Homo sapiens: one gene and its partners. The protein of the gene in region 1 purifies or fractionates together with the protein of each later gene. This does not show direct contact. Each region holds a gene or a part of one and is shown on either strand. Other genes may lie near its edges.

Evidence for each region.
Region 2: the proteins of TSSK1B (region 1) and CEP131 purify together in Homo sapiens (affinity purification with mass spectrometry; 3 studies listed by BioGRID and IntAct, with this or other methods). This does not show direct contact.
Region 3: the proteins of TSSK1B (region 1) and GPHN purify together in Homo sapiens (affinity purification with mass spectrometry; 4 studies listed by BioGRID and IntAct, with this or other methods). This does not show direct contact.
Region 4: the proteins of TSSK1B (region 1) and GAPVD1 purify together in Homo sapiens (affinity purification with mass spectrometry; 3 studies listed by BioGRID and IntAct, with this or other methods). This does not show direct contact.

The regions. Positions count from the first base shown.
Region 1 is NC_000005.10:113,432,053-113,439,632, forward strand, and holds TSSK1B (testis-specific serine/threonine-protein kinase 1), read right to left. Parts: upstream 2,938-7,580; 5' UTR 2,788-2,937; coding exon 1,684-2,787; 3' UTR 501-1,683; downstream 1-500. UniProt on the Homo sapiens protein: Testis-specific serine/threonine-protein kinase required during spermatid development. Phosphorylates 'Ser-288' of TSKS. Involved in the late stages of spermatogenesis, during the reconstruction of the cytoplasm.
Region 2 is NC_000017.11:81,191,965-81,198,993, reverse strand, and holds part of CEP131 (centrosomal protein of 131 kDa), read left to right. Parts: intron 1-22; coding exon 23-117; intron 118-696; coding exon 697-879; coding exon of another isoform or gene 880-888; intron 889-1,105; coding exon 1,106-1,282; intron 1,283-1,938; coding exon 1,939-2,064; intron 2,065-2,167; coding exon 2,168-2,293; intron 2,294-3,042; coding exon 3,043-3,159; intron 3,160-4,021; coding exon 4,022-4,124; intron 4,125-4,866; coding exon 4,867-5,068; intron 5,069-6,150; coding exon 6,151-6,258; intron 6,259-6,400; coding exon 6,401-6,518; intron 6,519-6,601; coding exon 6,602-6,676; intron 6,677-7,029. UniProt on the Homo sapiens protein: Component of centriolar satellites contributing to the building of a complex and dynamic network required to regulate cilia/flagellum formation.
Region 3 is NC_000014.9:66,504,095-66,511,162, reverse strand, and holds the start of GPHN (gephyrin), read right to left. Parts: upstream 3,017-7,068; 5' UTR 2,636-3,016; coding exon 2,572-2,635; intron 1-2,571. UniProt on the Homo sapiens protein: Microtubule-associated protein involved in membrane protein-cytoskeleton interactions. It is thought to anchor the inhibitory glycine receptor (GLYR) to subsynaptic microtubules.
Region 4 is NC_000009.12:125,257,872-125,264,831, reverse strand, and holds the start of GAPVD1 (GTPase-activating protein and VPS9 domain-containing protein 1), read right to left. Parts: upstream 3,007-6,960; 5' UTR 2,873-3,006; exon of another isoform or gene 2,872-2,872; intron 1,297-2,871; exon of another isoform or gene 731-1,296; intron 1-730. UniProt on the Homo sapiens protein: Acts both as a GTPase-activating protein (GAP) and a guanine nucleotide exchange factor (GEF), and participates in various processes such as endocytosis, insulin receptor internalization or LC2A4/GLUT4 trafficking.

The DNA of each region.
Region 1 (7,580 bases):
TTGAACCCGGGAGGCGGAGGTTTTGGTGAGCCAAGATCGTGCCACTGCACTCCAGCCTGGAGATAGAGCGAGACTCCGTCTCAAAAAACAAATAAACAAACAAACAAAAACAAAAATTAGTTGGGCATGGTGGCACGTGCCTGTAATCCCAGCTACTCAGGAGGCTAAGGCAGGAGAATTGCTTAACCCAGAACCGGGAGGCAGAGGTTGCAGTGAGCCGAGATCACACCACTGCACTCCAGCCTGGGCTAGAGCGAGACTCTGTCTCAAAAAAAAAAAAAAAAAAAAAAAGAAAAGAAAAAAAAACAGCTAACAGTGTTGGCTCGGAGCTGGAGTGTACCTGGGCTTTAACCTTGGCTCTGCCACGTATTTATCATGTGCTCAGAGACAAGTGACCTAAACTGACTTTACTCAATTTCGTGTCTATAAAATGGGAATAATAATAGGACCCCTCCCATAGGGTTATGAGAACTAAACACATTAATGAATAGCATGCCTAATGAAGTTGTATTATTCTCATTTTATAGATAAAGAAACTGAGACATATAGATTAACCAACTTGCCCAAGATCATTTAGTAGCAGAGTCAAATTCGGTCTATAGAAATCAAAAGTTCATGCTTTTCACTATTGTTACATTGTTTCCAGTATTAGCTGATTCGTTTGTCCATTAATTGGATATTAGCATTTAAATAAAAAGTTGATAAGGAAAAAATAAAAATAAAACATTTTCCTTTGTAAAATTTTCTTCTGGGGGTGCTGGGGAGTAAATTAGCTACAAAATCAATTACAAGGAGAATGATTAAATATAAAGAGTTAAAAACAGGAATATAATTTCCAAGTGCTCTTTTCCAAATATTATCGCTGCAAGGTTTGAACAGGAGAAAGCCAGTAGAGATAAGAAAAATCAAAACTGAATAAACTTGATGTTAAATCAGCTTCTATTTCTTCTTGTCTTTCCTCCCATTTTCTCCAGTTGCCATGCTACTCCTGAGGATCTAGGATAATACTGAAAGAAGCACATATGGGGCACAAGATTTCTAGCACTTTAAAGCTTAATGCTTTAAAAGTATGTTTTGAGGCTTCTTTAAAAGTTTATGGATCTTGCCCAGAGCTGGAGTCGGAGCCCCCGAGGCTGCCGCCGAGAGTGCCCGCGAGCCCGTGGCCCAGCCGAAGCTCTTTCCCGCCGCCTCTCCGCGCCTCGTCCCCGTCCAGCCCCACCCAACCCCCAACCCAGCCTGGTCCCCTGACCCTCAGTCTGGCCCGGTCTGGCCTCCCAGCAGGGTCACGCAACTGCCCCGGGGACGATGAAAGGAGGATAAATGGTGCCCAAGGTGGACAGCGGTGCCTTCCTGCTGCTCTTCCTGCTCTTGCTGTCACTGAGCCGTTGCGGCCAGTGGGGACCCTCTGCTGAGACAGGCTCTGTGTCCAGCACCTGCTCCGGGTCACGCTCTGGGGGAGTAGGAGTCGCACGACTGTCTCAGCCTTGGATTTGACTTTGGCCTCATCCACCTAGGGGCCACGGGAGAACCATGTGGGTTACCAAGTTCAAGGGGAGAGAGAAGAAGCTGATGAAAATAGAGGCTCATCTGGGACTGCCTTCCTTCTCTGGCTCCACCCTTGACTTCTTCAGAGCTTGGGCTTTAAGCCGTGAGCTCCATCTCATTCCCTGGGCCGCAAGAAGCTCACTGGGCCCGCGTCTCTGGAGGCTGTTGGGGGGGCCCTTCCTCTGTCTCCATAGTCGACGGCTTGCTGGGGAAACCCAGGATCTCCGACTGCCTGGACATTTGCATTGCTGTCCCCTCGGGTTTTGTCTCAGGCTGTGCCTGGGGCTGTGCCTCTCCCTCAGGCTCCAGCTTGGTGGCAGACTTCTTGTCAGAGCCAGGTTCGGGGGTCCACAAGGGTTCAGTTCCCCGGGAACTCTCCCCCTCCTTGTTGATGGCCACAGAGGGAGATCCCCGTGCCTTGGGCTGCATCCAGCAGTGGCTGAGGATCTCGTCGATGTGGAGCCGCCGGTTGACGTCGGGCTGCAGCATGTGGTAGATGAGGTCCTTGCACTCGCCTGTCAGGTGCTTGGAGCGTGGGAAGTTGACGCGGTGCTCCTTCTGGATACGCAGCATCTTCTTGATGTTGGAGTCGTCGTAGGGCATGGAGCCGCAGACCATGATGTAGAGGATCACGCCTAGGCTCCAGATGTCGTACACCTTGGGCTGGTAGGGAATGCCCTGCAGCACCTCTGGGGCCGCATACGCTGGTGACCCACAGAAGGTCTTGCTTAATGCCATTCGACCACTGTCATCCCGCAGGCAGCGCTTGGAGAAGCTGAAGTCGGACAGCTTGATGTTGAAGTCCTTGTCAAGGAGAAGGTTGTCACACTTGAGGTCCCGGTGGACGACGTCCAGGTCGTGGCAGTACTTGATGGCCAAGGAAAGCTGGTGGAACTTCTTGCGAGCTTCGTCCTCATGCAGGGCTCCCCGGGTTTTGATTAACTCGAGGAGGTCGCCCTGGACCGCGAGCTCCATGACGATGTAGACCTTGCCATGTGATGTCTCAAAGATCTCGTAGGTCTTAATGATGGAGCAGTGGTTTAACATGGCCAGAATCTCAATTTCCCGGGGAAGGAATTTCTCCAAGAAGTCTGCGGGGGCCTTCTTGCGGTCGATGATCTTGATCGCCACATTGAACTTCAGGCGCTCAGAGTAAGCAGATTTTACTTTTGCATAGGAGCCCTCTCCTAAATTTATCCCCAGGAGGTAGCCTCGTCGCTTGAGGACAGCAGCGTCATCCATGGTGCCAGGAATGCCCAGTGCCTCTGAGGCTGCCCTCTACAGCCCCGAGGCGCATGGGCCAGCAGTGTGCTCATTTACATCCTGGATAGAGAGTCCTTTGGGCTGGCCAGGCCTGCTGTTCCTGCCTCCTAGAGGCCAAGACTCTGGAGTGGAACATTTGGCACTGTCTCCCAGATGACTTCAGCGAGTGAAGTCACAAAGGAGGAGTGCCCTGGGGGAATGAGACCCTGGCCTGAGGCACTTGGACTTGGAATCCTGGAAGGCTGGCCAGTAGGCTGGAGCAGACAAGATGAGCAGAAAGTGGCCTCGTGTCTTGCTGGGACCTGAGGTAGAAGGGGACTGTGTGGGACACATGGGCCTGCCCATGCTTCCAAACCCAGAGCCAGGCATACTTGTGCAGAATTGAGGCCAATTCTTGCAAACCAGGGCATCTGAGGAGGATTTAATAAAGGGACAATTAATAAAGGTGGGAGCAGAGTGTAGGGAACCCTGAGGGTCACACAATTACCCCAAGATAGTAGCAGACCCCTGGCCTGCATAGAAAAGGGTGGGAATGGTCCCTGGAACCCAGAAAGAGTAGTGTAGACAGGACCACCTTGAGAGAGGCAGTGGCCTTCAGGGGAGAAAAAGCCAGCCTCAGTGACCCTACAGGCTGGCAGGGGATGGGAGGAAGTCCCATCCCTGACTTCTTTTTCTCCCCTTCAGCCCTTGATGCTGTCCACACAGGTGACCCTCAGGAGTGCAGAGCAGGGCCAAGAAGAGTGGTGTGTCAAGAAGGTAGACAGCTTCCTGGCCCCGGAGTCACGCAGTTTGAGATGCCTGGATTCTGCCGCCTCCCTATACATCTCTTCCCTTGTCTGAGCCTTTGCTGGCTTCTTACAGCAGCTCTGTAGGAGGACAGCTGGCAGGAGTTCTGCTCTTGGCTGTGAGCTCCCTCCTGGGGACCTGCCCAGCTCACGGCCCTGGCTGGGCTCCCAGGGCATATCTGGGGCTGGGGGCTGAAGGTGGGGCCTGGATGCCACCCTGAGCACTGGCAGCTGCTCTGAGGACATTACAAGCAGCAGGGGAAGCACTGGACAGCAACCATCATTTCTTCTGGCAGTGGAGCCTCTGCTGTGACTGGTTCTGTGTCCAGCACCTGCTCTGGGCCACACCGTCAGGAAGAAGGAGTTGCATGACTGTCCTAGCCTTGGATTTGACTTTGGCCTCATCCACCTAGAGGGAGTGAGAACTCCTTCCTCACATGAGCCAGGTGGAACCCTGGGCCCTTCAGGAGTGAGTTAGTAGAGCTGGATGTCGCTCAGGCTGGGTTGGGTCACCACCAGCTGTGGCCCTTCTCCCTTTTCTCTGCTCCTTCACCTTGTTCCCCAACTCTGACTGCCCACTGCCAGTCCTTTGTGCGTGGTTGGTGCTCCTTCCTCCAGACAGCCTCCTTCTCCTTCCTGCTGGGGAAACCCCAAGTGCTGTCTCTTGGAAACCAAAAATAAAATTCTAATCTCCCCAGCCATCTGAATGGACCCCTCTTCTCAGCCAAGGCCATTCCAAAATTAATCTGAAAAACTAGTTCAGGCCATGATAGAAAGTAGGGGTCAGGCAGGCCTCATCATCCCTCCTCCCTTCAGGTTTCAGGCACAGCTGAGCAGCAGTAACATCGACACAGAGACCTGAAGACTGACAACAGACTCTGGCAGTAAGATACAGCAGGCTCTGAAAGAAACTGAAGTATTTTACTATCAAACAGATTTCTTTGACATATTTTGAAATAGCTCTGCAAAGCTGTCTCTTATGAGGAAAATCTACATTCTGTGAAGAATCCCCTTCCCTTTCTAGCTCTTTTCTCCTGAGATAATTAACTAGAGTCTGATAAGAAACATTTAACAGTGTGTTTTTTCTGAAGCCTGATACCTGGAGGCTTCATCTGCCTAAGAACCTTGGTCTCTACAACCTCTTACCCCAGAGACAGTCCCTTCTATTGATTCCAGGTCTTTAGATAAACTCTCTGAGCCAATTGCCAATCAGAAAATCTTTGAATCCACATGACCCAGAAGCCCGCCTCCCACTTTCAAGTTGTCCCTCCTTTTCTGACTGAACCAATGTATACCTTACATACACTGATTGATGTCTCGTGCCTCCCTAAAATGTATAAAACCAAGTTGCAGCCCTATCCCTTTGGGCACTTGTTGTCAGGATCTTCTGGGGCTGTCCTGGGCCATTAGTCACATATTGGCTCAGAAGAAATCTCTTCAAAAAAAAAAAAAGTTTATCTATATTGCTGTCTACAATGAAAAATATCCAATGTTATGTTTACTCTTTGTAATTAAATGCTAAAAAATTTATTTTGGTCCCAATGCTGTTTTCTTTATTGAGTTATCCTACAAAGGCAATAGGGAAAGATAAGCAGAGGCAAATGCAAGAGAGAGCAGGGAAGACAGCTTCTTGCAAATTGGGCTTTCTCATTTGTGTGTCCCCTGGCTGCCCTCAGCACAGAGCTTTACACACAGTCATAAACACTGGCTGAGTGATCATCGCAAAGAAAGGGAGAGAAAAAAAATTCATTTTCCTCCATTGCTCCTTTACCCCTGTTATGTTCTATGTCTTCCAAGGATAAAGACAATGAGGTATGAGGTATTCACTCAAAATGATAATTACCTTGGGATTATGTAGAAATATTGTATCTAAAATCCTAAACTGACAGGATCATTTATTTGCATTTTACAAAAATCTGGGCAACAGATGATACACATACACTCACACATAGACATACAAAACACCTGGAGATGAAGGAGAAATAGTGCTGCACTTGAATTATTTCTATTTTGGCTCAAAATTCCCTGAGATATATTTCTAAAATCTACTCGGCAGTTTCTCCCACCCCCTTTTTGTCTTTTGATTCTTTAGATGCTTTAAATTCAAAAGGCTCCTTATCTATATCCCAGATAGTTGAGTTATTTGAAAGCCCTGACCAAGGCATTTTATTATGGATTTGGTTGCTCTTGGGTAGAGTGAATAGGTAAATATATGCTGTACAGGGAATTTTGGCAGGAGTGGTAAAGGGCTCCAGCTCCCTGCTTCACATCTCAGGTCTGCTCCTTCAGTGCCATGTGGGATTCTCTTTGGATACCATCCCATAGGTTGGGAAGGCATCCTAAAATCGATGCTGAAGTTGTCAGTATCACCAGTCTATGGGACCTAGTGAAAGAGCAAGCAGAACTCTGAGAATCTGGGAAGAAAAGCAGTTTTCTAATGCAAAATGCATGAGAGGAGAGCCAATCCTTGGTCCTAGGGCTCTGACAACTCATTTTGTGACCTTAGGCAAGTGACCTGTGTTTCTTTCCCCTAACTTTCCTTATTTTTGGGTTGTGGGGGGAGTCTTTAACTAGAAATTGTTAAGGTCCTATAGAATGACACCTAACTTTTTTTATTCTATATCTAAAGACATGTTATCAAGGGTTCCATCTGCCGTACGGTGAGTTGTAGGAGCTGAGGCAATTAAGAGCATCAGACACGGGGCAGATAAATCTGGTTTTAAATCCCAGGGGCCACATCTTATTAGTACAGTGTGACTCTCGGAAAGTAACTTGATCTGTAAAATAGATGAAGTTATCTAATTTACCTAGTTATCTTACAGAGGCAATAGGAAAAGTATATAAGGAAAAAAGGTATGCAAAATAGGTATGCACTTTAAAGTGATTGTGAGGATTAGACATGGTGATTCCTGGTATATCACCTCTTATGACATCATAATGGTCTAAAGCAGAGGCATTCTACTCCATTGGGCCCAAGTTATGTACAAAATAATATTCAGTATAATATAGATCTATTATACCTTAGAATATCCCAGACGGGATCCTGTAAACTATTTTCTAGTATCTGTTAAATACTTTTCTTAACACTACTAAGCACTACAGGGAAGCTAAAAACACTACGACATGGCATCACCTTCTAAAAATTTGTTATTTAGTTGAAGAAACCACTAGAATATAGATATGAATGTCATAATATATAAAATATGAAACTTAAGTAGATTTTTTAAAGTACTGATTTTGCAGTAAATTGCCTAAGCTTATGGGAGAGAAAAAAAATCAGAGGGCTGGGGTTGCCCAGGAAGGTGTTAGAGCTTCCTTGGGCAGGATCCCCTGGCTGGGAGGTCACCCAGGATACGGTGTTGAGGCAGTGTCTTCTAAGAGCACAGTTCCTGAAACCAAAGGACACCAGGAACATAACAATGCAGGGTCAAAGTCTGAGCTAAGGAAACAAATTTTGAAAACCAGGTTGAAAATTCCAAGAGATCAGACAGAAATGTTTCCATGGTTTAATTTGGAAAAGGTATAAGGAGCCTGGGTTGCTGACCAGTTAGGCAGGCCAAAGCTGGAGTGTCGGGGAGCAAGTCTGGTGGTAAACAGCAGGCTCAGAGTGAAGTGCCAGTCAAGTCCTAGACCTGGTTGTGGAAGCATGCTGAGTACATTTCAAGTGGCTCACAAAGGACAATTGGAGGGTTTCACAGAGGTGATGAGACACACGAGGCCTTGAAGCAAAGGTAGATGTACATAGGTGATACAGGAAAGGGAAATGGCATTTGAACAAAACACAGAGAAATGAATGAATATGGCCAAGAACAAACCTTTATTAGATGACAAATGCCTTGGAAAAGATAGAGATGAATATAACATGGTCAGTACCCTCAGAAGGTCTCTCAGTGTCCTAGCCTACCTCACAACTTGAAGCACTAGGAAGCAAAATCCAATGGCCAGTCGTAAGTTTTCTGCTAGAGACTCATGTCACTGAAGATAGCT
Region 2 (7,029 bases), on another chromosome or scaffold:
GGTGCTGTGTTCTGCTGTGCAGGTGGTGGCCTCCCTGCTGCAGGCCCCGGAGACCGCTGCCTGCCCACCTCCGACTCATCCCCAGAACCACAGCAGCCTCCAGAGGACAGGACGCAGGTCTGAGCACAGCTGTCCTTCACTCCATCATGGTTTTTGGCTTTAAGGGCCATGTCTGTGCCAGGGGTGTCCTGAGCTGAGCTTCTCCCAGCCCCTCCTCTGCTCTAGGGGCCACTTAAGCTCAGAGAGGCCACCCAGGAGGTGTCTTCTTGCTCTGATGCATGGTGCTGGCTGCCTCTTGGGGAGCCTTTGCTGGGGTGGATCCAGTTGGGTTTTTGCAGATGTCCTGGGGTGGGGGGCCTTGCATCCTCATCCACAAAAGAGGAGCTTCCGGCTCTGAGGGGTGACCTGACAGCCAAGGCTCCCAGGCTGCTCAATGGTGGGGCCAGGTGGCTGCACTCCTGTTTTCCTGGAGTGGGGCACTGGGAGGAGTCCCCTGGTGGCTGGAGCTGCTCTGGGTTTGAGCAGCTGCAGAGACCGGGTGGGAAGGTCTGAGCCCTGGCCTCACCTTCCTGGGGCTGAATGTCGGGACTGGGGAGCTCCCGCGGCGCCTTTGGGGCTCTGCGGTTGGCCTCCTATGTGGGGGCTGCTCTCAGCTACCAGCAGCCTTGCTGCATCTGTCTCCCTGCTCTTTTGCAGGACGTTCTTGCCCAGGATGCAGCTGGGGACAACCTGGAGATGATGGCCCCGAGCAGGGGGAGCGCCAAGTCCAGGGGGCCACTGGAGGAGCTGCTGCACACACTGCAGCTGCTGGAGAAGGAGCCGGACGTGCTGCCCCGCCCCAGGACCCATCACAGGGGCAGATACGCCTGGGCCAGCGAGGTGACCACGGTGTGCGCCCGCCCTGCACAGTCTGTCCACCCACGCCATTCACACAGAGCATGCGGTGGCTGTGGGGGTTGGGAAAATGGGGATGCCACAGGCTCCTCCTGGCTTTAGTCACAACCCTCCCTCCCAGAGCCCAGCCTCAGCTGCCACCTCTGCCTTTGGGGAACCCAAGTCCTCAGGCTGCCCTGACAGCCCCCGATGCTGGGCTCCTGTCCCACAGGAGGATGACGCCAGCTCTCTGACAGCTGACAACTTGGAGAAATTTGGAAAACTCAGTGCGTTCCCCGAACCTCCTGAGGATGGGACGCTGCTATCGGAGGCCAAGCTACAAAGCATCATGAGCTTCTTGGACGAGATGGAGAAGTCTGGGCAGGACCAGCTGGACTCCCAGCAGGAGGTGGCCCCTCACCAGCCCGCACCCGGCCCCCAGTGGGAGGAGGCCCCTCACGAGCCTGCACCTGGCCCTCGGGGGAGGAGGCCCCTCACCAGCCCGCACCTGGCCCCCAGGGGGAGGAGGTCTCTCGCCAGCCCCCACCCGGCCCCCAGCAGGAGGTGGTCCCTCACCATGTACCCACCTAGTTATGCAGCACCCCCCACGGGTCTCTCAGGGTGGAGGTGGCAGGGCCCGCATTCCCCATACTGCCCCCACCTACCCGCTGCCCCGAGCTGCCTCCACGAGCCCATATGTGTGGATAGTTCAGCCCTCTGGAGCCCTGCTGTCCTCTGGGTTGGTTTGTCCTGGGTGAACACTAGCGGCCAGGCTAAATGGAGCAGTGACGTGAACTTTATTGTCACAGGGCAGGAAGCTGGGCAGCATAGAACTTTTTAAATGGTTTGTTTTTTATTCCTGAGGCCACGGCCCCCATTTCCTGTACTGAGCAATGAAAACGACCTCTGCTGGGCCGCCTGCCACCTGCCCTCCGGCTTCCCACGGGCTCCCGTGTGCAGCAGCCCCTCTGTCCCCAGAGGGCAGGGCCGCAGGGGCATCGTGTCAGGTCCTTGGCTGCCCCCCGTCCTCTGCCGCTTCCGCCTGACGCTCGGCTGTGTCTGCAGGGGTGGGTGCCGGAGGCGGGGCCGGGGCCCCTGGAGCTGGGGTCCGAGGTGAGCACGTCTGTGATGCGGCTGAAGCTGGAGGTGGAGGAGAAGAAGCAGGCCATGCTGCTGCTGCAGAGAGCGCTGGTAACGCTGCTGGCACTGCTAATCCCGGGCCCTGCTAGCCTCCTACCTGCTGAGGCCAGGCCCACCGGTCCTAGCGCTTCCCTCCTCTGCCCACACCCTGCAGGCGCAGCAGCGAGACCTCACGGCCCGGCGGGTCAAGGAGACAGAGAAGGCGCTGAGCCGGCAGCTGCAGCGGCAGAGGGAGCACTACGAGGCCACCATCCAGCGGCACTTGGCCTTCATTGACCAGGTGAGCGGCCCGGGGAGCGCAGAGGCCCGGACCCAGCGCGTGGCTCATGGAGACTTCCAGAGCCAGGGGCTTCCCACTGCCAGGGAGCTTCTTCCTCTGTTGGGTGTCACACGGGTGTCCGCTGGACGCATTCCAAGCCTTTCCCATGCCATTCCCAGCCATGCATGCCCTGGAGAGGGCACTCCTGTCTTTATCCAGAGCCGCCCCGTGTGAGTGTAGTGGGGTGTCCTGCCGGCCCCTCAGCTCAGTCGCAGCCCCGGTTGGCTCCTGTTCTGAAGAGAAGAGACCTAGAGTTGGTCTGGGGTGTGTGAGAATAGGGGCCTCCAGGGCTGCTTGATAGTTGTCACAGGTGTGTCCTGACCTGGGGTCTGGCCTGGGGCCGGCAGTGAGGCTGGTGTGGTCCTGACACCCTTTGGCAGACAGTGAGCCTCCTCCAGGGCTGGGTGATGGCCTCGGCAGAGCTACCCTCATCCCAGGAAGACCCTGACATCACTGCAGGGGGTGGGCTGGGGCTTCTCTGACATTCGCCGGGTCCCCCAGCTGAGGACAGGACGGCGGATGCAGGCCTGGGCCCGTGTTTGCACACGTGCCCCCCCACTGGCCCCAGGGTCCATCCACAAACCTAGGAGGGGCAGCCCCAGGGGAGGGCTGCTGTTAGCCTCCCTCGGAGGCTGGGAGGGTCTCCTCCATCAGGGGTCCTGCTGGGCTGGGGCCTTGGTGTAGCACCTCACCTCCGGTCCCCAACACAGCTGATTGAGGACAAGAAGGTCCTGAGTGAAAAGTGCGAGGCTGTGGTGGCCGAGCTGAAGCAGGAGGACCAGAGATGCACCGAGCGTGTGGCCCAGGCACAGGCGCAGCACGAGCTGGTGAGGCTTTGCTCCCTACTGCACGGCGTCCCAAGCCCGGCTCACAGGCCAGGCTCAGCTGGCACAGCCCCCAGAACAGGACCGGACTTGGAGTCCTCATTCCTGTCTCGGTGTGTCAGGGCCACAGCGGTGGGTGGGGCTGTCTGGGGGAGCACCGTGGCACCGAGCTGGTCCACTCCTGCCTCTCTAGCTGCCAGGCTCTGGGGCGGGGCCGTGGGCCTGCTGTCACAGATGTGGACGCACAGTCCCTGCCCGGCCACAGCACGGTAGCCGTGGACCCAGGAGCCTCTGCCTGGTCTGCCCCACTGCCAGGTCCTTGGGCCATGGGACCTGCTCTCTCTACTGACCAGGTGTCGGTGGAGCATTGACTCCCCGCCCCTTCCCGCTGTGTGAGCTCCCTGGGGGCCTCAGCCTCCCTGGCTATGCTTCCCACCAGCTTGGGCAGTGATGGTCCCGAGCCCAGGTTCTGGAGTGGGGCTTGGCACTGGCATTTTAAAATCCCTGCACGTGACTGTGGCTGACAGCCGGGGTTGAGGACTGCCAGTCCCATGGAAGAATGCAGGCTCTGGGGCCGTCCCGACAGGCAGCAGCACCCCTCTCTGGGGCAAGGCCTCTGCAGGCTGATGGCTGCCCTCCCATGTCTCAGGCCACCAAGGTGTGTGGCAGGGTGGGCCTGGGCCTCCAGCCTGGCCCCGGGCGCTGGGGAGGGCAGCAGTGGCTCTGTCTCGGGGCAGCACACCCAACCATGAGTGCCGGCCTTGTGCTGGTGGACCTGGAAGCCCGGCCCTGACTGTGCCCACAGGGTGGCAAAGGGACGGGGGTGTCCTTCGTGTCGTTTCCTCCTGCCCTGTTCTGCTCGTAGGAGATTAAAAAACTCAAAGAATTAATGAGCGCCACCGAGAAAGCCCGCCGGGAGAAGTGGATCAGTGAGAAAACCAAGAAGATCAAGGAGGTCACTGTCCGAGGTGGGCCCTCCCCTCCCATGAGCCGGCCAGGTGTGGGGTGGGTGCTGCGGCCAGGGCTTCTTTTGAGAGAGCCATAACTTCAGGCATTCATGTAGTCCGAGACCTTCCTGGGCAGAGGTGAACACTCATGCCCCAACCACCCCCGTCACGGCCTCCGCTGCGGCTTCTGCCGTGACCCGGGGGGCAGGTGGGCTCCACACAGGAGCCTGGCCCAGCCCCCAGCATCTAGGCAGTTGCCTGAAACGAGGGGGCTCAGTGCCTCACTTCCTCAGGGTTGGGCTAGGGGAGATTGGGAGTTTGTGGACGACTGTGGCACGTGGGCCCTGCCACGGGAAGCAGAGTGAGCCACAGGAGGAGGCAGGGGCAGGCAGGCGGATGGGGCAGGAGGCTGGTGGGTGTTGTGGTCTGAAGGGGCCTCGGACCCTTGGGTGATGTGCAGGGCTCCCCGAGGCCTGGTCCTCTCGCTCTGGACACCTGCCAGGGTGCCTGGGAGCCGTCAGTGGTAGCACCAGGAGTGTCAGGAGCCCTGAGCCCCACAGGCTGGGAGAGGCGCCGTGGCCCTGTGGGGGTCTCTTCCCCACCTCGTGGGCGTCAAGACTCAGCTGTGCTTCGGGTTGGATCCAAGGAGGCCCTGGGTGGGCGGGGTCCCCTCTGGGCCTGAGACAGGCTGGTCTTGTGCCAGGGTTGGACTTCCCGGGCCCACCCTAGCTGGACGTGGCCCTAGCTGGTGCCCCGCCCCCAGGTCTGGAGCCCGAGATCCAGAAGCTGATTGCAAGGCACAAGCAGGAAGTGCGGAGGCTCAAGAGCCTGCACGAGGCGGAGCTGCTGCAGTCGGATGAGCGGGCCTCGCAGCGCTGCCTGCGCCAGGCCGAGGAGCTGCGGGAGCAGCTGGAGCGGGAGAAGGAGGCGCTGGGCCAGCAGGAGCGCGAACGTGCTCGGCAGCGGTGGGTGGTGGCCCCAGGCCGGTGGGGCCAGGACCCTCAGGGCGGGGAGTCGGAATCCTCGAAGGCTGGAGTGGAGTTCCCATGTAGAGGTGGGCGAGGGTCTTAGTGCAGCATGCAGGGAGGACGCAGGGCCCTTGGCCCTGGAGTGGCCCTTGGGGGCCCAGCCTCAGCCGGGCCAGTGTCCTCGGGCTTGTGTCTGCAGTTCATGCCCGCCGAGGTCTGCAGGTTCTGCATGGGTGCACGGGTGTTTTCCCAGGGTCAGGGCTGGGAACCCCCACCAGACATCCACTCTTTCACAACTGGCCCCAGAGCAGCAACCCGTGGATAGGCGGCCTCGAGGCCCCTCCAGCTCTGACCTTGGGGCCCAGGGACGGTCTCTCTCATTCACTCCCTTGGCCTGGGGTCTGAGGGGTGACTGCTGCTCTTGCGTCCTGAGCCCTGGGGGCTGGGGACGTGCCCAGTGGTGGTCAGGATCTGCGGGCCACAGGGGGCAGTGGCAGCCCCTCCTGCACTGTCTGCGCCACCAGGACAGCCTGGAAGCCACCCTCTCCTATCCACCCTGTTGCCTGTCGTGGCTGGTCCTCCCCAGATGCAGCTTGGCTGGTCCCCCAGTCTCTCCTCGAAGGTGGGGTCAGGACGAGGCCCTGGCGCGAGCTTGCTCAGGTCACGGAGCCAGGCACCTGGCACCCTCAGGCCGGAGGCAGGGGAGGTGGATAAGGCCCCACGAGGCACCTGCCTCCCGCCCTCCATGCCCGTGGGGCAATGCTGAACAGGGTGAGGCCGGCACACGGGCTGAGGGAAAAGGGGGCCTGGACGCGGCTCCACAGCCACTTCCCAAAGTGCCACGAGGGCCTGGAGCTCAGGGAATTGCTGCGCTTGGCTGATGGGCAAGTTCCTCGTGGCCTTGCCTGCCCCCGGGCGGTGGCTTTGAGGGGCCTTGACTGCCGAGGGGGAGGGGCAGGGCCCCGGAGGGCTGCTCTCCAGCTGTGAGTCAGGCCTGTGGTCGGCCCGTGCCCCTGCGGTGGGTGGGTCCTGGGACCGCCCGTCCCGGCCCCCGAGAGCCAGTCCTGACCGTCCCGCAGGTTCCAGCAGCACCTGGAGCAGGAGCAGTGGGCGCTGCAGCAGCAACGGCAGCGGCTGTACAGTGAGGTGGCTGAGGAGAGGGAGCGGCTGGGCCAGCAGGCAGCCAGGTGCCGCCCGGGGGCACCACGCCCTCTCCCAGGGACCCCTCGCTGGCTGACCCCTCCCCCCCGCCCCCTCACCCGCTGACCTCTCCCATCCCTGACTCCTTACTCGATGACCCCTCACCTGCTGACTCCTCCCTGGCCGCAGGCAGCGGGCGGAGCTGGAAGAGCTGAGGCAGCAGCTGGAGGAGAGCAGCTCTGCACTGACCCGAGCCCTGAGGGCTGAGTTTGAGAAGGGCAGGGAGGAGCAGGAGCGCCGGCACCAGGTCTACCACCGGAGGGCTGTGCTGGGCCTGGCCAGGGGGCTGCACGGGGTGGGACTGACTGGCCTCTTATGTCCGCCCCCCAGATGGAGCTGAATACCCTGAAGCAGCAGCTGGAGCTGGAGAGGCAGGCGTGGGAGGCCGGCCGCACCAGGAAGGAGGTGGGGGCCTGGGCACCCAGGTGGGCAGGGGTTGGGGGCTGCCCTGCGTGGGCAGGAGTTGGGGGCTGCCCCAGGTGGGTTTTGCTGCTGCTGTGGCATCCTGGGGGCTCGTTTCTGGGAGTCACATCTGGCTGCTTGGGGTTGTTGTCTGAACTGACGCTGAGTGTGTTGCTTTCAGCCCATCTTTTGCGTGGGCTCTGGAAGGATCAAGGGTGCCTGGAGCGCATCCTCTGTGGTCCGAGAACAGGCGTTGCCCCTCTCGCTAGGGGCTGCTACACCCCTGCGCCCCACGACCAGCCCACTGACACTCAGATGTACCGAGAGGGACACGCACAACAGGGGCTCCCCCCTTA
Region 3 (7,068 bases), on another chromosome or scaffold:
TAAGCTGTTGATAATGAAACCCACTAGTTACAGACTTGAGAAAAATCAGTTTTCTTTCCTCTCCATCATAGTAGACAATATCTGTATCAACAACTTTCAAGAAAAAGCCTGAGTTACTTCTGACTTCAAATATACATGTTATCATCAAAACCTATTTTCCTCTATTATCACTTATTCCAAATCTGTAGCTGCCTTTTCATTCCTTCAGCTACATCCTTGTTCCTGGCCCTAGACTTTTCCCCCTAGACTACTGTACCTCATTCTCATGAGACGGCTTCCCCTGACTGTCTTTAATTCCACTGTCAATGTTAATGTTACCTTCTCTCTAACATTTTACCTATGCCACCTACCCATTCCACTTCAGCTTTTCAAGGCCTTTACATTGCATTTTTATTTAGCTCAGAAGCCTCATCATCAACTATATATTTATTTATAAAGTGGCTGCTGACTTTCAACTCCCCTTAAAATTGACAGTTTCTTCTTGACCTAGTAAATGTATTAAATTCTCCCTTCAGGTAGTCACATTCTCTCCTAATCCATCTGAATACGGAATTTCTTTTGCAGTTAACCCCAAACTCATAGGTAATGTATTTAGAAAAGTTTTGCACAATAATTACATACAATGTTTCTTCATTTGTTTGCGTATCAATGTTATCCATATTAGACTGTAGGGACACCAGATAAGGGCTGCATCTTTCAAAGCAGTCTGTACAACACCTATCTGCTATGTCACTTCACAAAGGTAAGTTGATTCGTTAAATGAAACTATTATTTAATGGAAAGCTTAAGTAGAAAATGTTCATTTTAAAAATGTTTCTACGGTTTAACTTTTAAACATCTATGGCCTTTTTTATTTCCACAGACAACTGACATATTTTGGTTTCTCACTACTCTATTATTGTCAAAGAATGGCTGGAATTTAAAGTGCAAGTTGAGGGTAGATAAAAGATATACACTTTGACATCCCACCATCAGATTATTCGAAAATTGGCAATGTCAGCTCCAGGAATTCTGAAATACAACTGAATCTTCACATACCCAAACAGTTTCAGGACCAAAAGAAGAGAACAGCGCACCTTCTGATTTGGGGGTTCCCTTTTCTGCAACTGGTTTAGACTAGTTTCTCTATCCAAGGGTCTTTTAATTAGGAAAATTCAATTAATCACCATCGATATACGGAAAGAATACCAGGGAAAGGCAATCCTTTACTTAAAAGAGAAAAAAGGAGGCTTTGGATATCACCTTTTCATAAAATTCAGCAGCTAAATTAAGCTTTGCACTCAATATCTGCCGGCAGTCTCAGACATTTTTTTTCTACCTAATAATAAAAGCAAGTCTTATTCAATTTAGTCCCTTCTCGAGCACCGTCTCGACCTGTCAGAATTTGACAGTTAAAGAAAAAATTAAAAAAAGAAGTAAGGGAAACACTAGGATTCCCGTCCACACTGCTTCTTTTTCCGAAATCACATCACTGAGTCTTGGATTTCCTTCACTCCAAACTAAGCCCTCAGATTCCAAATATAGTTCTTTAACCCCCGTCTCGCCACTCAATTACACATAAACCTTGCCAATTACAGAACCACAGCAGAAACCCCTACAAATCCGCTTGCTGTTCATCTTGGAAGTCATGCCCTGCAGCAACTGCCGATCGCCGAAGTGACGGATATTAACCAAATTCAGCGCAACGGAATCAGACATGCAGAACACACACGGCTTTCGCGAGGGAGGGAAACGCGACCCGGGAAAAGTGCGCTCCTCACCAGCCTCGGGACGCTCTACCGGGGTGGGGGTTCCCAGAAAGGAGGGGGAGAGGAGCCCGAGTAGGGGAATCCTGCCCTCTCAAGTAAAAAGCTGGATCCCCGGCAGCAGGCTGCAGCCCGTCCTCGCTAAGGAAACGACGAGGCAGACAGAGGGCCTTTTGCGCGGAAAGGCAGAAGGCAGACACTTTCCGAGGTCCGGACGCAAGCCGATCCCCCATCCCCCGAGGGAGGCGAAGGGTGCCCCATGGGTGGCTGAGGGGACGCCCGGCCCGCGAGGGACAACCCGAGGAGGAGCAGTTTCATCTGATTAACACCTGAGTCTCGTCCAGGCAAGCACAGATACTGGCGTGGGGCCGCCCAGGTGGGGGGAAGGGAAGGAGAGGAAGGGGGTGGAGATGGGATTCCCCCCTCTCTCTGAAGAGCACTAGCGGAGGATGCGCCCAGGCCAGCCGAGAGCGGCATGCTTCAGACTGCGGAGCCGGGATCCCGCCGCCTGCACCGACAGCGCGGAGCCCCGCAGCGCCCTCCGCACCGGCCCCTCGGTCCCCGGGGGCCCAGGACTTTGCTTCCGAAGGCGCTGGGGCCTAACATCCCACGGGGTCGACCCCGGCTCCTGGGGCCTGGGGGAGGGGACCCGCGGGAACACCCCCAATCTCCGGCGGTTCTCAGCGGTTGTAAAATGCACCCCCGCGGTTCCCTTCTTCAGCCTTCCCTCCTCCCGAGGCCGCAGAGAAGGGCCACCACAGGCGAAAAGCCTAAGGCAATGCAGGGACAGCAGCCTCATAGGTCCCAGACCTCCTCCCCCGGTTACCTGTAAGGACTCCGACACGGATTTGATGGTCGTGGTTAGTAAGGATCATTCCCTCGGTCGCCATGTTTCCCAGCGCAGTCACCGCACTGACAGGAGCCGGGAGAAACCGGAGCCCGGAGCGCGCGGGCCGGGAGCGCGCTCGCCGAGGAGAGCGCGACAGCTAGGGAGCCAGAGAAGCGCGAGGAGAGCGGGGAAGGAGGGGGAGGCCACAGAGTGCACGGTGGCCTGCGTGGGGGAGAGGCCGCGCCGGGAGTGCGCGGGTCCGCGGGAGGGGAAGGAGTCAGGGCGCGCGGCCCCAAGTCCGGCAAGAAGGAGGCAAGCTTGGGGGGCGCGGTGGCCGCACGGGGAGAGCGCGCGGAGGCGGCAGAACGAGGCCGGAGAGTGTCGGAACGCTCTGCGGAGCGCGAGACCCAAGGCAGCTAGATGGCAGGACTGAGAGGAAAGGATAGCACACGCTCTGGAGGTTGCGGGGGCGGACTCGGGGACAAGGGCGGAGCTACACCCCTAGGCGTGGAACTCGTGGAGAGTGAGGGGAGGAGTGAGAGCTCGGGTGCTGAGTATTGGGAGCGGGAAGGAGCCGGCCCAGCCTGAGTAGGACCGCGGATCGCTCCTGGGCGCGCGAGTAGCACCGGATTGGCTGAGTGAACGCGGAGCGTGTGCGCGCGAGGCACGAACGCAACCTCGGCCGGGCCCCAGACAGAAGCAATCCCCTGCCGAGCCTGACACCTCGTTGGTTGTCCGCGCCTTAGGCTGGCTCTCGCCGGCGGGCCGGCTTTCTACGCGGGGGCAGCGAGGCTGGCTCAGCACCCCGGGCCTCCTCTTGCAACCCTCGGGAATGGCCGGCCGCCCCACTGAAAGCGCTGGGGAACCGAGAGGTGTCTTAGAAAGCTGCATGAGTGGCAGAACGGTGGCTACTATGACAGAGAGGCCGCCGTGGGCGAAGAGGGAGGTATCCTGTCCTGCCTCGTGCTAGCCGCTGGCTTCCTCAGTGGGCTCTCCCTGAAGGAGGATTTCCGCTTCACCTATGCTTTAGGATTCCATCTCCAGTCAGTGCCTGCAAGACGATCCTCACGTGCGAAACTGAGGAGTCTGAGGCAGGGCAGCTGGAGTGGAGATACCTGGCTTCTCTTCCTCCTGCTGTCCCACGGTTTTGTGGCCTTAAGCCTCTTCGCCATGAGCGCTGCTTTTAGATGAAAAGCATCAATCTCCTTAGCGAACGAGAACGTGTTCCACCTGAACCACAGTCCATTGCCGCGGCGATTTTCATTTCAGTATTCGTGGGATGTGAGATTACCATGAAAGTAGCTTTTGTTGCCATTTATTTCCATGTGCCTTTCATGAAACGTGTTATTAATCACCTGTGGCTATTCTACGTTAGTTTCTTACTATCGTTCTGGACCTTTCAACTTCTGAATTTTAAAAAGTTATATGCGTGTGTGTGTGTGTACACACACTCATATGTATATGTTTTCTCTTCTTAGCTGTAGTAACCTGGAGGCATAAAAGTGAAAAGCAAAGTATTAAAAGATGTATATCAGTGTTTATACACAAATTTCAAAGTCACTTTGATAGGTTTTTTTTTGGTTTTGGTTTTGGTTTTTTTTGATCCGGAGTCTCGCTCTGTCGCCAGGCTCCAGTGCAGTGGCGCGATCTCGGCTCACTTGCAACCTCTGCCTCCCAGGTTCAAGCGATTCTCCTGCGTCAGCCTCCCGAGTAGCTGGAACTACAGGCGCGTGCCACGACACCCAGCTAATTTTTGTATTATTAGTAGAGACGGGGTTTCACCATGTTGGCCAGGATAGTCTCGATCAAGATCTTGACCTCGTGACCCGCCCGCCTTGGCCTCCCAAAGTGCTGGGATTACAGGTGTGAGCCACCGTGCCTGGCCGATTATGAGTTTTTTATTGTTCCGTTGGAACATGAAATTACCCATCCTCTGAAGATTCACGTGCTTATGTATTTCATTTTAAATAATGGGGCCTAAAAGTAGATGATGGATGGAATTGAAGTGGGTAAAATAAATTAATGGCTTTTTTGCTTTTGTTTTTGTTTTTAGTATGTGTATTGCTGGTATTTTTGACAGTAATTAAAAATTTAAGCCAGGTCATGAACTCATTCCCTATCATTGTCACCTTAGATCCTGGTGGCCAACGGGTTGTTAACTAGTTTGAAATGAGAGATAAAGATAAGAAAGTATGTCCAAGAGAATGATTTCCGTTATCTCAAACTAAACATGAAGAGCAAATAGTTGGTTATATTGTTATCTTCCTAACCTATCTCTATTCTCTGCAACACACTCTAAATGATTAGAAAATATCTTGAGCTTATCGTCTGTCTTACATCTATCTTAGACGTAAGGTCTAAACCTGCCCACTAACAGGTTGTGACCCTAAACAAATTTGGGCCTTTTCCTTCATCCTTTAAATAAGATGGTAGACTAAATAAGTACCTTTTAAGTATAGTGGTAGACTAAATAAGCACTCCTTTAATTAGAATATTCTGTAATTATTCATGGAAGAAAACTGGCACTTTATTTCACAAATCAATAATAAGAGGACAAGAGACTAACTTTCTGCATTCATAAAAGGGGTGATGGTTAAATTCATTAAAATTTAAGTGGGAAGGGTGGATATGAATTAAATTTTCTAAAGCAGCAGTCCCCAACATTTTTGGCACCAGGGATCTGTTTTGTGGAAGACAATTTTTCCATGGATGGAGATGGGGAGGGTTGATGGTTTCGGGATGAAGCTGTTCTAGAAAACTGCAGATCATAAGGTATTAGATTCTGATAAGAAGCCACAACCTAAATCCCACGCATCCGCAGTTCACAATAGGGTTCATGCTCCTATGACAATCTAATGCAGCCACTGATCTGACAGGAGGCGGAGCTCAGGCAGTAATGGTTACTGCCTGCTGTGTGGCCTGGTTCCTAATAGGCCACAGATGGGTACCTGTCCATGGCCCAGAGTTTGGGGACCCCTGTTCTAAAGTATATGGAGGTTTATTAACATTCATTATGTTTTACTGACTGTAAGTATTAAAATTCCTAAAAAATAATAATGGAACTAAATTATAATGCTTGTCTTTCAACCGTTTTTCTTAAGTGTATTCATCTTTCTCAAATTCAGCAACCTTTTACAAACCTTACAAAGGAAAAACGCAGTGACTTTACTGTCTAGAGTGAACTTTTACTGATGGTTATTGAATGAATATTATAATATGTACACACTATTACTCTTGTTACAGTGTGACATTCTTCAGAATTCATCCTGGAATCAATATTATGCCAAAGAAAATTTTCTGAAAGGTAGGAGAGAGTGCCATTTTCCAAATATTGATAAATGTCTCAGGAAACATGGGACATGGGGTGTGGTGTGGGTTGGGGTGGGAATTTGTATGTAAATAATTAGAAGTGCCCAGGGAGTTATTCTTTCCATTCTTAGGGTTTTCATCATGAAAACTACAAGAGTTGCCATTAACCATCCAAGACAACATAAAAAAAATAGGTTAACATGTGGCTTTCATTACAATTATCATGGAATGAAACTTTATATTTCAGTAGAAATGAAGTTATTATTATTATTATTATTTTTTGAGACAGTCTTGCTGTGTCAGCCAGGCTGGAATGCAGTGGCACCATCTCAGTTCACTGCAACTTCTGTCTCCTGGGCTCAAGTAATTCTCCTGCCTCAGCCTCCCGAGTAGCTGGGATTACAGGTGTGTGCCACTATGCCTTGCTAATTTTCGTATTTTTAGTAGAGATGGGATTTCACCATGTTGGCCAGCCTGGTCTTGAACTCCTGACCTCAGGTAATCCACCTGCCTCGGCCTCCCAAAGTGCTGGGATTACAGGCGTGAGCCACTGTGACCGGCCTGAAGTTAGTTTTTTCCTAGTACTGGTATATTTACACTTAGCCCACCAGTTAACTCTTAGTTTTTCTGTGGTTAATCACAATTTCTTTTTTTTCTTTTTTTTTTTTTTTTTTTTTGAGACGGAGTCTCTCTCTGTTACCCAGGCCGGACTGCCGTGGCACTATCTCGGCTCACTGCAAGCTCCGCCTTCCGGGTTCACACCATTCTCCTGCCTCAGCCTCCAGAGTAGCTGTGACTACAGGCGCCCGCCACCATGCCTGGCTAATTTTTTGTATTTTTAATAGAGACGGGGTTTCACTATGTTAGCCAAGATGGTCTCGATCTCCTGACCTTGTGATCCACCTGCCTGAACCTCCCAAAGTGCTGGGATTACAGGCATGAGCCACCGCGCCTGGCCCACAATTTCAGTATAAGCAAGGCCAAATCTCATTGGGCTTTTCTGGGTCCAGACTCTCCTCTATGTCTTTTCCTACATGTGCATACCTATGATAAAGTTTAATTATATAGTAGTCACCGTAAGAGATTGACAGAAATAACTGATAATAAAATAGTACAATTATAACAATTTACTGTAATAAAAGTTATGTTAATGTGGGCTCTGTCTCTCAAAATATCTTATTGTAT
Region 4 (6,960 bases), on another chromosome or scaffold:
CAGGAGAATGGCATGAACCCGGTAGGCAGAGCTTGCAGTGAGCTGAGATCGCGCCACTGCACTCCAGCCTGGGCGACAGCCTGAGACTCCATCTCAGAAAAAAAAAAAAAAAATCCACCTCCATGATTTAAAGAAAACCAGCAAACAGTAAAATTTCTTTTCTCAGGCTTACATTAGAGCTTACAGAGCTGCAATCCCTTGGAAGTGGGGAGGTGCCTTAATACAAAAATTTAAAGGCCAACATATTCACTTTTCTTTCTTCTTCCGATTATTTTGTTCATTCCCCATTACCCTGAATGAAATATCTATGGTCTATTCTTTCAAAATGACTACTCTGGGCAGGACGCGGTGGCTCACATCAGTAATCCCAGCACTTTGGGAGTCCGAGGCAGGCAGATCACCTGAGGTCAGGACTTTGAGACCAGCCTGACCAACATGGTGAAACCTTGCCTCTACTAAAAATATAAAAATTATCCAGGCGTGGTGGCTGGTGTCTGTAGTCCCAGCTACTCAGGAAGCTGAGGCACAAGAATCGCTTGAACCCAGGAAGCTGAGGTCGCAGTGAGCGGAGATCATGCCACTGCACTCCAGCCTAGGCAACAGAGCCAGACTCCGTCTCAAAACAAAACAAAACAAAAGACTACCCTGATCCCATCCAAATTTTTTATCTCCCTGATTATGAAATTCTCTTTCGTCTACACTGTCATCCTGTCTGCCTTCAATGATTCAAATGTTCTTCTAAAGAACCAGATTGCCATTTATGAACTCCTTTTTAAGGAGGGAGTCATGGTGGCCAAGAAGGATGTCCACATGCCTAAGCACCCAGAGCTGGCAGACAAGAACGTGCCCAACCTTCATGTCATGAAGGCCATGCAGTCTCTCAAGTCTCAAGGCTACATGAAGGAACAGTTTGCCTGGAGACATTTCTACTGGTACCTTACCAATGAGGGTATCCAGTATCTCCGGGATTACCTTCATCTGCCCCCCGGAGACTGTACCTGCTACCCTACGCCATAGCTGTCCAGAGACCGGCAGGCCTCAGCCTAAAGGTCTGGAGGGTGAGTGACCTGCGAGACTCACAAGAGGGGAAGCTGACAGACATACCTACAGATGGAGTGCTGACAGACATACCTACAGATGGAGTGCTGTGCCACTTAGTGCCGACAAGAAAGCTGAGGCTGGGGCTGGGTCAGCAGCCAAATTCCAGTTGAGACGGATTTGGTCGTGGACGTGGTCAGCCACCTCAGTAAAATTGGAGAGGATTCTTTTGCATTGAATAAACTTACAACCAAAAAAAAAAAAACAACAGTTCTTCTAAGTAGACTTATAAATCCAAAAAACCTTATTTCTATTTCAGGAGTTTTTTTGTTTTGTTTTGTTTTTTGAGACGGAGTCTCGCTCTGTTGCCAGGCTGGAGTGCAGTGGCGTGATCTTGGCTCACTGCAATATCCACCTCCCGGGCTCAAGTGATTCTCTTGCCTCAGCCTCCCAAGTAGCTGGGATTACAGGCATGGGCCACCACACCCAACTAATTTTTGTATTTTTAGTAGAGATGGGGTTTCACCATGTTGGCCAGGATGGTCTCGATCTCTTGACCTCAATGATCCGCCCGCCTCGGCCTCCCAAATTATTTCAGGAGTTCTTAATCTTTTTGTGCACGGACCTCATTGGCAGTTTGGTGAAGCCTATGGTCCCTTTCTCAGATTTCTTTTAAGTGCATAATTAAATACATGTGATTACAAGGGAAACCAATTATATGGAAATATTAGCAAAACAACAAACTAATATGGTCATAATATATGTACAGCCTTATTATCACATTAAATAACAATGTCTAACGGCGGGTCTAGTAACACCAGAAATTCAAAGAAGTGTTAACCATAAATGATATTCTGAGCTATCTGCAACTGTAAACATGATGCAAAAATATCCGTAATTTTTATTGATCACAAAGTCATAGGCGCTGCTAATGCTACTCTGGCTTGTTGTCCACATTCGTAACTGAAGGAAATAATAAGTTTCAGTTAGCAGTCAATAAAAATAATGATGTCATTTTATCCTCCTTCTAGTGAAAGGACCCTTCTAATTCTATCCATCAATGAACTCCAGTTTAAAACCCCTCTCTAGTTCAAAGTCCTGCTCAGAACTGATTTTCGTCATAAATTTAAAAATAAAAACACTGATTCCTCCTTTGACCTAGTTCTCATCTGAACCTATCACTATGTCTCCCTGTTTTTATGCACATTTATACACAGAACCCTGGGTGTACTTCTGTGGTTTGCCTAGCCAGCACTCACTACAATTTTGCCAGTCAATAAAAGGTGAAGTTAAAAGAAAAGGGATGGAAACAACCAACAGCTCCCTCACTTTCAGACCTCCGACAGCAAGTGGAAAGATGCCAAGTACAGTGAGTGTCTGTGTTAGGTGGGCTGCCCCCAGACCCGTGTGTCCAGCTTGTCAAGCTTCCCTGCAGCACGATATCTTTATCAGCGACACTCAGAAGACATTCCATTTCGTTCTCGCCTCCTATACTCAGTTCCCTACCTGCCGGGCCTCTCGTCTCTGGCCCCCACCCGAGGCCGCCCCGCGGTCCTCCTGTCCCTTCCCATCCCATCCCCCACGCGTCTCTCCCTCTCCTCAGCCCCAGGCCGCCCTGGCTCCTGCGCGCCGCCACATCTCTCCCCTGGGTCTAACCCAGTGTCCCCCGACCCCCACCTCGCCCGACACTGACGGGAAGAGCCCAGGACCCCGGGGTCAGTTGGACCTGACGGCCGGGCAGTCAGAGACAGGCTGCGGCCCTAGGCCGGAGCAACCCGGCCGCGAGGCAGGGAGCCGCTCACAGCCCGCGGACTAAATCGGGACGCGTACTCACCAAGGGGGTCATGCGGGGGAGGACACGGAGGACTCTGTCGGACCGCCACTCGGCCTCGGAGCCGTCGCCCTAGCCGGTGACTGCCCCCGCCGCCGCTGCCGCCACCTTCGCCACTCGCCTGTTGGCTTCCCTGCGTCCTGCAGCGGCGCTGCCGCCACGCCAGCGCGCGTGCGCAGCGCCGCGGGGGCCTCTGGGAGCTGTAGTTCCGCCCGGGCGGCTAGGGGCTCCCACTTCCGCCTTAGGCAGCCCTAGGTCAGCTGCCCCCTGAGGCTGTCGTGGGTGTCCGGGTCCGGAATCGTCTTCCGGAAGGCTGTTCACCAGGCCTGGGCCCTGGTTTCCGCCTGCAGTAATGCTGGACGTGAAGAATCCGACTGAGCAAGTATGTGTAAAGCAAAAATGTAGAGCGTTTTATGCTTTCTGTGACAACGCTCAGTTGCCCAGGACACATTATTCGCATGAATGACTCTCTCTCTTCTCTGTTTCTCTCTCACACGTACGCACACACTACTTACAAACCTCCCTTCCCTTTTTTTTTTTTTTTCGAGACGGAGTCTGGCTCTGTCGCCCAGGCTGGAGTGCAGTGGCTCAATCTCGGCTCACTGCAAGCTCCGCCTCCCGGGTTCACGCCATTCTCCCGCCTCAGCCTCCCAAGTAGCTGGAACTACAAGCGCCCGCCACCACGCCCGGCTAATTTTTTGATTTTTAGTAGAGACGAGGTTTCACCGTGTTAGCCAGGATGGTCTCGATCTCCTGACCTCGTGATCCGCCCGCCTCGGCCTCCCAAAGTGCTGGGATTACAGGCGTGAGCCACCGCTGCCGGCCCCTCCCTTCCCTTTTGTTCTAAGTGCCATTAATTGGTTTGGATGGTATCTGGATTTTCAGTGTAAAACCTGCCTTCCCACTTCTCAGTTTCTAAAATCTTGCTTATCATAAACTTCACCATGCAGTTATTTTAGGTAAGTCAATAAATGAACTGTCTAATAATTTTTGTAACACCATAACTCATATATTCAGAGGTCAAGTTAGCTGAGTTGAACAGTCTAGAAACCTTAAAATTGGAAGATACCTGCTTAAAGGTCACTAGTGCAACTGTTGCCCAGGCAGGAATTCCCTCCTGTACATTCAGCCAGATGGTCATCTTCCTGTTCAACAGTTCAAATTTCAGGGAGCTCACTCCCTCAAGTAATGCAGCCTGCTCCACTGTTGGACAGCTCTAAATGTTAGAAAGTTCTGCCTCCTGCTGAGCTGAAATCTGTTTCCCTTTATTTCCTTCCATTGCTGGTAGTTAGGCTGCCTGGAGCAATACAGAATGTCTTCCACTTGACAGATCTTCAAAAAATTGAGAACAATGATTATATCCTCCAATACTGGGAGTCTCCAGGCAAAAAAAGGAAAAAAGTAATAATCATTTCCCCAGCTATTTCAAATGTCAATCAACTCCCAAACTGCTTTCTATCTACTCACCTCTCTTGATGTCACCTTTAGGGGCATGGTGGCATATGCCTATAATCCTAGCACTTTGCGAGGCCAAGGCAGGAGGATTGCTTGAGCCCAGAAGTTCAAGACCAGCCTGAGCAACATAGTGAAACCCCAACTCTACAAAAAATACAAAAATCAGCGAGGCATGGTGGCTTGCACCTGTAGTCCCAGCTACTAGGGAGGCTGAAGTGGGAGGATCACCAAGCCCAAAAAGGTCAAGGCTGCAGTGAGCTGTGATCATGCCACTGAACTCCATCCTGGGCAGCAGAGTGAAACCTGTCTCAAAACAAAACAGCAACAACAACATTGACAGAATTGCTTCATATTTATTGCCTTGTTTTATGACTACATAGGTAGTAATAGAACCACCTATGGTAGGCTGGTCAGATGTTATTGCTATCGTGCTGCCATTCAACTCATTCAGGAATTCAATCAGCTCTGTTACAAGACATTACTCAATGCACCGCTGGCATGAAATAAGCAAGAGGAGGCCGGGCGCAGTGGCTCACGCCTGTAATCCCAGCACTTTGGGAGGCCGAGGTGGGCGGATCATGAGGTCAGGAGATCGAGACCATCCTGGCTAACACGGTAGAAACCTGTCTCTACTAAAAATACAAAAAATTAGCCGGGCATGGTGGCAGGCGCCTGTAGTCCCAGCTACACGGGAGGCTGAGGCAGGAGAATGGCGTGAACCCGGGAGACGGAGCTTGCAGTGAGTGGAGATCGTGCCACTGCACTCCAGCCTGGGCGACAGAGCGAGACTCTGTCTCAAGAAAAAAAAAAAAAGAAAAGAAATAAGCAAGAGGATACAATTTACAATCTAGGGTAGGATGAAACTGCCACAGATTAAGGATCATCATAATAAGCCAAGGTACAAAGCATTCTGAGATTCTCAGAGAGAATGGCCTTTTCAAGTTGAGGGTTCATGACCTTATGGAAGAGGTGACAGTTAGGAGTTACTGGATGGCTGGATTTCAAGACAAGAGATGGCATTCGTGGACTGCTAAGGAAGAACTCAGCCTTAGCAAAACCACATTCACAGTGGGCTCTGGAACACTGCGTCTGGGTAGGCTGGAGCACCCAGGCCAGGGAGGAAGGGAAGGAGAGGCCCCAAAAGTTGCAAAAGAATCTTCAGGGAAGCTGCATTGCATGTGAGAAGTAAAAAAGGAACTAGAATGGTCAGTTAATCTTCTGAGCCCTGTTCTGTCACCTACAAATGAAGAACTTGAACTAACAAGCAATTTTCTTTTTTTTTTCCAGTCAGCACACTCAAGGAATTCAAATCTCCTGCTAGAACTATGGATCACTACAACAGTGATTCTTGGGAAATATGGAATAGGTATTATTTTCATCCCTTTTACAAATGGGAAAGTAAACTCAAGAGGTGAAAATTTGCTCAAAATCAATAAGTAGTACTCACTGAGGGCAGATCACTGTCTCCCTAGAACCTGGCATACTGCCTAGAATGTAATGTTTGTTTTTTGTTTTTTAAATGAATGGATGAATACACAGTAAACTCTGTCCAAAGCCCCTTTCTTTCCATACACAACTCAGTCTTCCCTGACATAGAAGGATATGAAGTTACTTGTTCATGGTCACAAAATTCATACTGGACCTTGTGTAGAGTTTAGTTCTTCAGCCTCCCAACTCCATACTCTATTAAACTACTCTGCCTTAGAATCGCAAAACATTTTTTTTAATGTTCTTTTTCCTTCTATGTGTACACAGCCAGTCTTAGAAGTAAGCCAAGAAAGCAGATGCTATGGCCAAGTGATTTAAGGGGCCTCTGGCAAGTATTTCTGGACAAAAAAACACTTTATCCCCAGGTCCCTCAAAGGCCCCCAAACTTCATCACTTATATTGAATCACAAATGTTAACTTGAGGTGAAAATTTAAACCAACACATAGTCCCTGAGGGCGCAGACTCCATCTTATTCACCACTGGGCGTACTGCCTAGAATGTAATAATTTGTCTACATTTTTATTTTAGAAATAGGTCTTGCTATGTTGCCCAGGCTAGAATGCAGTAACTATTCACAGGTGCTATCGTGAGGGCTCAAGGGATCCTCATGCCTCAGCTTCCTGAGTACCTGGGACCACAGGCTTGCACCGCTGTGCTGGGCTCGCCTGTTTGTTTTTTGTTTTGTTTTGTTTTGTTTTGTTTGAGATGGAGTCTCACTCTGTTGCCCAGGCTGGAGTGCAGTGGAATGATCTCAACTCACTGCAACCTCCACCTCCTGGGATCAAGCAGTTCTCATGCCTAATCCTCAGCTGGGATTACAGGTGCACGCCACCATGCCTGGCTAATTTTTCTTTTTCTTTTTCTTTTTTGAGACAGAGTTTCGCTCTTATTGCCCAGGCTGGAGTACAATGGCACGATCTCGGCTTACCACAACCTCCGCCTCCCAGGTTCAAGCAATTCTCATGCCTCAGCCTCCCGAACAGCTGGGATTACAGTTCGGGCCACCATGCCCGGCTAATTTTTTTTTTTTTTTTTATGGAGTTTCGCTCTTGTTGCCCAGGCTGGAGTGCCATGGCGCGATATCAGCTCACCATAACCTCCGCCTCCCAGGTTCAAGTGATTCTCCTGCCTCAACCTCCAGAGTAGC